2 linked regions of the Homo sapiens genome follow. The protein of the gene in region 2 interacts with the protein of the main gene of each other region in a pairwise test. Each region holds a gene or a part of one and is shown on either strand. Other genes may lie near its edges.

Region 1 (4,253 bases), on a different chromosome or scaffold from region 2:
CCAGTACGATACTGTCCAGCACTGTTAACTCAGAAATGCTCCATCCATTCTTGCCATCAGAGAATTACAGATATGGATGGGATTGTTAAAAGTCTAACAGGGCCTCCAAATAGGATTGCACATGAAATAATTATGAACTATGATAAAACTGTGACAACACAGCTAGCTTATAGAACTGAGTTTTTCACTATAATAGCACTACAGAATTATGACAGTTAAATATCAGAATTATTTTTCCCTGCTAACTATTCAGTAGAAAAAGGATTTTCTGACTGTAATTCTGATGAACTGTTATCTTTGATGACTAGGATACTCGGGAAAATTGGAAAGTGAACAAAATGAACTCATTTATTTTTCACAGATATTAACAAGCAAAGCAGTTTACAAAAAGATCAAAAATTATCCTAAAAACAAATAAATATAAGATCAAATCAATTATCTTTGAACAAAATATAGCTCATTTTCAAAAGTTTTGTTTGGTTTGTGACTAGACTTAAAAATACTAAAATAAGCCAAATAGATGCTAACAATACTAATTTGCACACAAGATTTGAAAAAAGTACTTCAAGTTTTATCTCTTATCCCTAGAGAAAGTAAATAAAAAGTGGCTCTTGCAAAAATAAATGAAAACAAAACCACCAACAAAAACTAATCATATAAGATACTGTTTTTCTTTTTGAATACTTCAATTGGTCCTATATTAGGATAAGGTTTTGATAGCAAGGACTTCCTAGCTTCTTCCTTTATCTTCCATTCTCTAGTCACTTCCGTGTTTTTATCAAACAAGGCTACGTGTAGGCTTTCCTACAAAGTCAGGTTGAGTCAGAGGTAGCGTTAGGATGCAATATACTTGATCATAGTATGTAGTTAGTTCAAATGAACACATCATTATCTAAAAGGATTACAATAATTAAAAATGCAAAAAGAACATGTACTGCCCTCACTGCTTTGCGCTAAGAAAAATTCTGAGAAACTGAGAACAAACATTGGAAGCCAGGAAACAGGCAATTAATTGCCTCATCTTCCATGAGCTCCTTTAATGCACCAGTTCAGGCTGGTTTTCCACGAAGGGTAGCACCCCACTCACATAATAAGCAATGCCAAGAGACAGCAAAGCAATGACGAAGATCAACAGCAATACTCTCCAGAAGCCCAGATCCTCCACAAACTCCTGCCACGTGGTTCGGAAGCTGGAGAGGACTCCTTCACCTTGCTGCAGGTTGGGATTGAGGAGTGAATGGCTTTCCATGGCACTGTGGAAGAAGAAAGAGCAAAAAGGGCATTAAAAAAACACAGCAATTCCAAAAACATAAAACCACAGGGCTACTATTTAGAAAAGACCAAATACACACACACACACACACACACACACACACACACACACACATATATATATATACACACTCTTACATGCTTACGTATCTGAACAATATATACTAAACTGTAAATTGCTAAATGGTAATGAGTATGTTTCTCTTGGTTTAGAATTTAGTAAACTCAAGTTAAAAATTCTATTTAAAAGGTCCTGGCTGGGCGTGGTAGCTCATGCCTGTAATCCCGACACTTTTGCAGGCCAAGGAGGGAGGATCACTTGAGCCCAGGAGTTCGGGACCAGCCTGGGTAACATAGCGAGACACCATCTCTATTTTTTTTTAAGGTGTCCTGAGCAGAAGTCTTGAAATAGGTTATGAGTTGTCTCCATCAAGATATTAAACCACAACACATTCTTGTTATGTTAAATTTAGAAGATTCAAAGTGCAGACTCATAATTTAAGAATGTGTTAATACGAATAAGCAGACATGCAGGTGATGACACCTGAAGAGGACAGTCATCTACAAGTCAAGCAGAGAGGCCTTAGAAGAAACCAACTTTGTGACACCTTGATCTCAGACTTCTAGGCCCTAGAACTGAGAAAGTAAATGTCTGTTGGGGGGAGGGGGGAAGATGAGTAAATCTAAAAAGTCACTTATACAGTGTGTGTGAATCTTGAAGTTAAAAGGGAATTTTTATTAATTTAGTTCAATAATCTGACCAATGAAGGAATTCCTTCTTTAATTGTAATTCTCTAATAATGGAAGGTTACTCCTCAGCCTGTTGTACATGTGGACTCGTCTAGTCATCAGAAATTCTTTTTTTTTTTTGGAGACAGAATCTCACTCTGCCGCCCAGGCTGGAATACAGTGATGCGATCTCAGCTCACTGAAACCTCCACCTCCCCAGCTCAAGCAATCCTCCTGCCTCAGCCCCCCAGGTAGCTGGGACTACAGGTGCATGCCACCATGGCTGGCTAATTTTTGTATTTTTGGTAGAGACAGGGTTTCGCCATGTTGCCCAGGCTGGTCTTGAACTCCTGAGTTTAGGTGATCCACCTGCCTTGACCTCCCAAAGTGCTGGGATTACAGGCATGAGCCACCACAGCTGGCCTAGTCATTAGGAATTCTTAATAGTTTCTTCCTATTGGTGTTAGTTCTATCTTGTACAGTAAGACAGAATATGTTCATTTCTCTTCTGCATAAAGGCTAGTCTAGTTGAAAATAAGGTAGTGCAAATACCATAAAAACACTGATTCTGGTTTTCAGAACTTTATCAATGAGAAATACGACTACCACAAAGAGAAACTGCATCTGACTTTGGTACTTGGAAGCACTAAGGGAAGAGCACTCATGGTTATATCACAACATACAGGCCCAATAAGAGGGTATCATTTAGATTAAAGCCACCATAACCATGATCATAGGAATCAACTATCTACTGGTTATCAAAGTTCATTACTATCCTTCCTAACTCCCATAAAACAGTATCTTAGAGTCTCATTCATTATGAACTATGAATAAACATGCAAAACTGACATTTTTTAACCTACAACTTTATTTTACTTCTTGATACCATCAAACAAAAGTCCTTCAGCCTTTACCAACATTAGAGGTCTTCTCTGATCATGGGAAACTGACTTCCTAATGGGCCAGTCTGCTTAACACCCAAACTTTTTTTTTTTTAATAATTAAAACATGTTTATTCTCTGAATAAGAGATGATGTTTTCAGTGGGAATCTACAACACCACAGTAATTTTGGAACACTTGACAGCAAGTTTAAAAATAAGATTAGAACTTTGAGAAGGCCTAAAAGAGTAAAACCACAAATAGATAACACAGTTCTGCAGAGGCTTAGTTTGACCTATGTAAAATTTATTGATTACGAGTTGACATGCCCTTATACATGTTAGGTATAAAATGAAAATTCCATGAGCATTCTCATTGTTCTTCAGAGCTCATGAAGCTCTGCCAATCGGGATATTCTATAAAGACTTTATCCAATGAAATGCTTTCTACTGTCCAGGGAATATCTGATTCTAACATAATGGGGTGTGTGTATAATCTTTTTTTAAAAACGTGATATCTACACTGTCTTTGGGGGGTGTGTTTGCATGTATCTTTTTTAAAAAATGTGATAGCTATACTGTTTTTGTTATCCCATACCTACAAAGTAAAAAGGAATTAAACTTAGAGTTATATGGAGGAGTGGGGAAATATTTTTCATTAACTTGATTTATAGTCCCTTATAAGGCCTGCAGAAGTTGTGCTGTCTTGGGGGAATCCTAAGAGAAATGGAAAATATTATAGTAAATACATTTAAAACCCTGCTTTATCTTCTGCTCTAGAAAAAGCCATTACACAATTATGCCATAATGCCATGTGCTAGCCAATCTCTTTAAACTTTTTCATCTACATTTATTGAGACATAATTCACATCCCATAATATTTACCTTTTGAAACTGTACAATTCAGTGGCTTTTCATATATTCCCCAAATTGTACAACCATCTCTTCTAATTCCAGTACACTTTCAGCACCTCTATAAGAAACTCTGTACCTATTAGCAGTCACTCCCATTGCCCCTTCTCCCAGCTTCTAGTCTACTTTCTCATCTACTTTCTGTCTCTATGGATTTGCTTATTCTGGACATTTCACATAAACAGAATCATGTAATATGTGGCCTTTTGTGCCTGGCTTCTCCAATGTAGCATGTTTTCAAAATTTATCCATGCTGTAGCATGTATCAGTATAATATAATAATATTAGTAATATTCCATTGGATGAACAGATGATGTTTATTCCTTCATCAGCTGATGGATATCTGGGTGGTATCAATGTTTTGGCTATTATGAATAATGCTGCTATGAACATTCATATATAAGTTTTGTGTGGACATATGTTTCAATTTTCTTTGGTATATTCCTAGAAGTGGCACTGCT
Region 2 (3,877 bases):
TTGATACTCTGTCTTGATCCTTGGAGCAGCCCTGAGGTGAGTGAATTGCAGCAGATTCTTTGGCTGTTTGGTTTGAATTCTGCACCTGGCTAGAAGAGAAAGCCCAATAGAAATGCCTTCTTGGCCAGGTGCAGTGGCTGACGCCTGTAATCCCAGCACTTTGGGAGGCTGAGGTGGAAGATTGCTTAAGCCCAGGATTTTGAAACCACAGTGAGTTATGATTGCACCACTGGACTCCAACTTGGGCAATAGAGCGAGATCTTGTCATTCATTCATGTACACATACATACATACATGGGGTTCTCCTTAAATAGGCAGATAAAAAACATTTATCTAAACTATCTTCCTAATCCTCAAATAAAAGCATACACATATAAAAGCTATAAATAAAGCCCAAAGACAGAAGAGGAAATAACAAATCAGTCAACAAAATATTGGAAAATAAAAAGTGAACAGGCTGGGCATGGTGGCTCACGCCTGTAATCCCAGCACTGTGGGAGGCCATGGTGGGCAGACTGAGCCCAGGAGTCTGAGACCAGCCTGGGCAACATAGCGAGACCCTACCTCTACAAAAAAAAAAAAATGCCTTCTCATACTCCTATACCCCCACACCCCCTGCCAGAACATAAAATCAACCTACCCTTGTTGTTCCCCTGCCCTTTGGTTCTACTTTCCCTCCCCTCCAATGAAGAAAGGCACAAAGTCAGGAGTTGATGCTGCATCTTTTTTTTTTTTTTTTTGGTTTTGCTTTCTTAAAGCATGTGCTGAGCTGATGAAGAGAGCAGTTTGGCAATTAAAAAGGCCCAGCGGCTTGGGCAGCAGCAGGGGGGTGCCAGGTGAGGGTCAGGTAGTCCCTCTTTCCTGGGCCAGGGAGCAGCAAAGCCCGCACTAACTTCATAAAATATAAAACAAGGGAGGGGCGAAGGGAAGAGGGAGATTTGTAAAATACAATATCTTAGGGGATTGGCAATAATAAAAAATAAGGTTCATTATTTACAAACAATTTCTGTTCTTGGTCTCTGTACAGTGGGGGTGGGGTAAGGGGTGTCTGTGAGTGGGGTGCGTTGATGTGTCTGTTTGGGTGCAGGTGTGGGGGCAGGGAGGCAGTGGTCGTGTTGGGCATATGAGAGAGGAGGTGGGGTACCCAGTGAGTGGTTTGTCTGAGAAGGACGGATGGATGTTGGTGGGAAGGAGAATGAGAACAGAGTGGTCGGCCCAAGGGAAGAGTCCAAATGTCAGGGGCAAGGAAGGGCTGGGAAGTGGAGCCTTTTCTCCTGGAATGGGAAGCTCCAGGAGGCAGGGGCACGAGGCGGATCCGGGTTAGTGAGCAAGAACTCCTCTTCTGGGTACCAGGGGTCCGTCCTATGTCCTGGGTCTTGGCATGGCCTAGGAGAGTTTGATGGTGGTGTTGGGGCCCAGATCCCTGGAGAGAGAAGAGAGGCCAGCGATGACTGTCCAGCAGGAACCCTCTTACCCTCTGCAAGCTGGATCTAGACCAAGTAGGGATGGGGCCTTGGGAGGGTGTGGCCAATGTGGGGACCAAGGGTGGGCAGGAGGCAGGTGGAGCCTGAGACCTCAGGAGGGAAAGGGGCCACACACCCCACCTGTCGTGGAACCACTCCTTGGAGTGGGAGAAGTCGGGGCTGGTGCCGTTTCCACCGTCTTTAGGCCAGGCCTCACTCAGGTACTTGGTGGTCTCGTGGGTGCTGTCCAGGTGATCATGCTGCAGGTGGTCCCGGGGCCGCTGCTCTGCCGGCCCCCCGGGGTTGATTTCCCAGCCATCTGGGGGCTCCATGGGCAGCAGGGTGCTGCGGCCATCTTCCCATAAGCCTGCCCCGTCATCGTAGAATAGGAGGCTTCGGGAGGGCACTGGAGAGGGAGTGTAGGATGAGCGGTGTGCCCAAGATTCCCTCAACATCCTGGCCACATTCATGGCCTAGTGGTTAAGGACGCAGGCCCTGGATCTGAGTCCCAGCTCTGACACTTCCCGGATGTGTGACCTCAGGTAAGCCACACACTTTGCTTTAAACTTTCTGAGCCTCAGTGTGCTCTTCTGTAAAATAGGGATACTAGGACCAACCTCATGTAAATGAGAGGTTTAAATGAGGTAATACAGGGGAAGTGATTGAAACTGTGTTCAGGAAATACTCAGAAAAGTCACCTCTTCCTAGCAGAGGGTACTGAGTTTGGGCATCTGGGAGCTGTGTTCTAACCTCCACCACTTACTTGCTCTATCTCCCTTTTTTTTTTTTTTGAGACAGAGTCTTGCTCTGTCGCCCAGGCTGGAGTGCAATGGCAGGATCTTGACTCCCTGCAATCTCCGCCTCCCGAGCTCAAGCGACTCTCCTGCCTCAGCCTCCCGAGTAGCTGGGACTACAGGTGTGTGCCACCATACCTGGCTACTTTTTGTATTTTTAGTAGAGACGGGGTTTCACCATGTTGGCCAGGCTGATCTTGAACTCCTGGGCCTCAAGTGATCCTCCCACCTTGGCCTCCCAAAGTGCTGAGATTACCGGAGTGAGTTACCGCACCCGGCCAGTCCACCACTTACTTTCTGTGAGACCTGGAATAAGTCTCTTCCCCATTCTAGATCCTAATTTGCCCTTCAGAGAAGGAAAACAAACATTTGTTGGACACCCATCATTTGTTAGGCATTATCCAAGGCCCATAGACCTAAGTAGAGTGGTTAAAATCTTAGAGAAACTCTAGGGAATGAGGTTTCTTTAGCCCCGCTTCCCAGAGGAGGCAGCTGAAGTTCCAGGCACTCAGGGAAATTGTCCTCCCTGAAGGGAGGATGCGAACCCAGGTCTGCCTGGCCCTGGGATCTGCTGCCCCTCCGGCTCTGCAGCCATGACCTCATAGTCTGTGTGAACAGAGGTCCCTGGAACTGCGCAGTGCGCCAGCTCTGCAAACCAGCCTGCTCCAAAGCCATCTGCCTGCTGGGATGTGTCTTCCTCTCCACCCAGCCCAGGTCCTGGGCCTAAAACCCACTGCCTTCCCTCCAAGGGGCTCATTCATTGCCTCCTCTCACTGTGGCTTTATCCATCAACCCCAGCTCTCTTTCCACTCCTTTTTCTCCAGTGGCTTCTGTGGCCTTGGAAAAGCAGACACATGGCTCTCCAGACCTTGCATTGCTGCTGCCCACCCGCCTTTAGTGACCACCCCGTTCTCTCCTCCTCAGCCTGCACGTGTCCGGGGAGGAGCTTTCACTCTCCCTGTCTCTACTTCCTCTTTCCCTAACCCTCCCCACACCAGCTTCCTCCCCTCAAGGCCCTCAACGTCTAGCTCATCCTCCCTGCTATATCCCTCCTTCTTGAAACTCACTCCTTAATCTTCCCTCCTCTGACCTCCCATCTGTTTCCTCTTCCTCCTCCTGTCCTGCCAGACACGTGGTTCTTGGTAAGTGACTGACTGGTAAGTGATGAGGGACAGCCAGGAAGTTCCTCTGTGGGTCCACCTGAAGGATTCTCTGCGTCTGAAATCCACACTCTTCTTTGCTGGGCCCTACCCTGGTTCTCCCTTTGCCAGCTACTGTGATGTAGCTATTCTCTCCTCCGTGAGCTCTAAGAGACTGAGTGTGCTCATTTCATAAGCACAGACACTGTGCTATTTCATGCACTGTCTCACAGCCATGGCTCAGTAAGTGCAAAATTGCCACTCCCATTTTCTAGATGAAGAAATGAAAGCTTAAGACACATGCCCCTGGTCACACAGCAGGTGGCAGTGCCAGTTACGATGGACTTGACATCCCCATGCTCCTAACCACTGTACGTTTACTATCCCCCTTGGAAACAGTAGATATCTGAACCCACACCACCGCTACCCTTCTTCTGTCCATGGTAGACATTATCAGTGGATCATGACACTCCTTCCTGTC

What was found.
Region 1: the proteins of CREB3L1 (region 2) and ANKRD46 interact in binary tests that used the Homo sapiens proteins (3 or more experiments, as listed by UniProt).

The regions. Positions count from the first base shown.
Region 1 is NC_000008.11:100,521,519-100,525,771, forward strand, and holds part of ANKRD46 (ankyrin repeat domain-containing protein 46), read right to left. Parts: intron 1,254-4,253; coding exon 1,037-1,253; 3' UTR 1-1,036.
Region 2 is NC_000011.10:46,318,256-46,322,132, reverse strand, and holds the end of CREB3L1 (cyclic AMP-responsive element-binding protein 3-like protein 1), read right to left. Parts: intron 1,870-3,877; coding exon 1,605-1,869; intron 1,424-1,604; coding exon 1,387-1,423; coding exon of another isoform or gene 1,236-1,386; 3' UTR 724-1,235; downstream 1-723.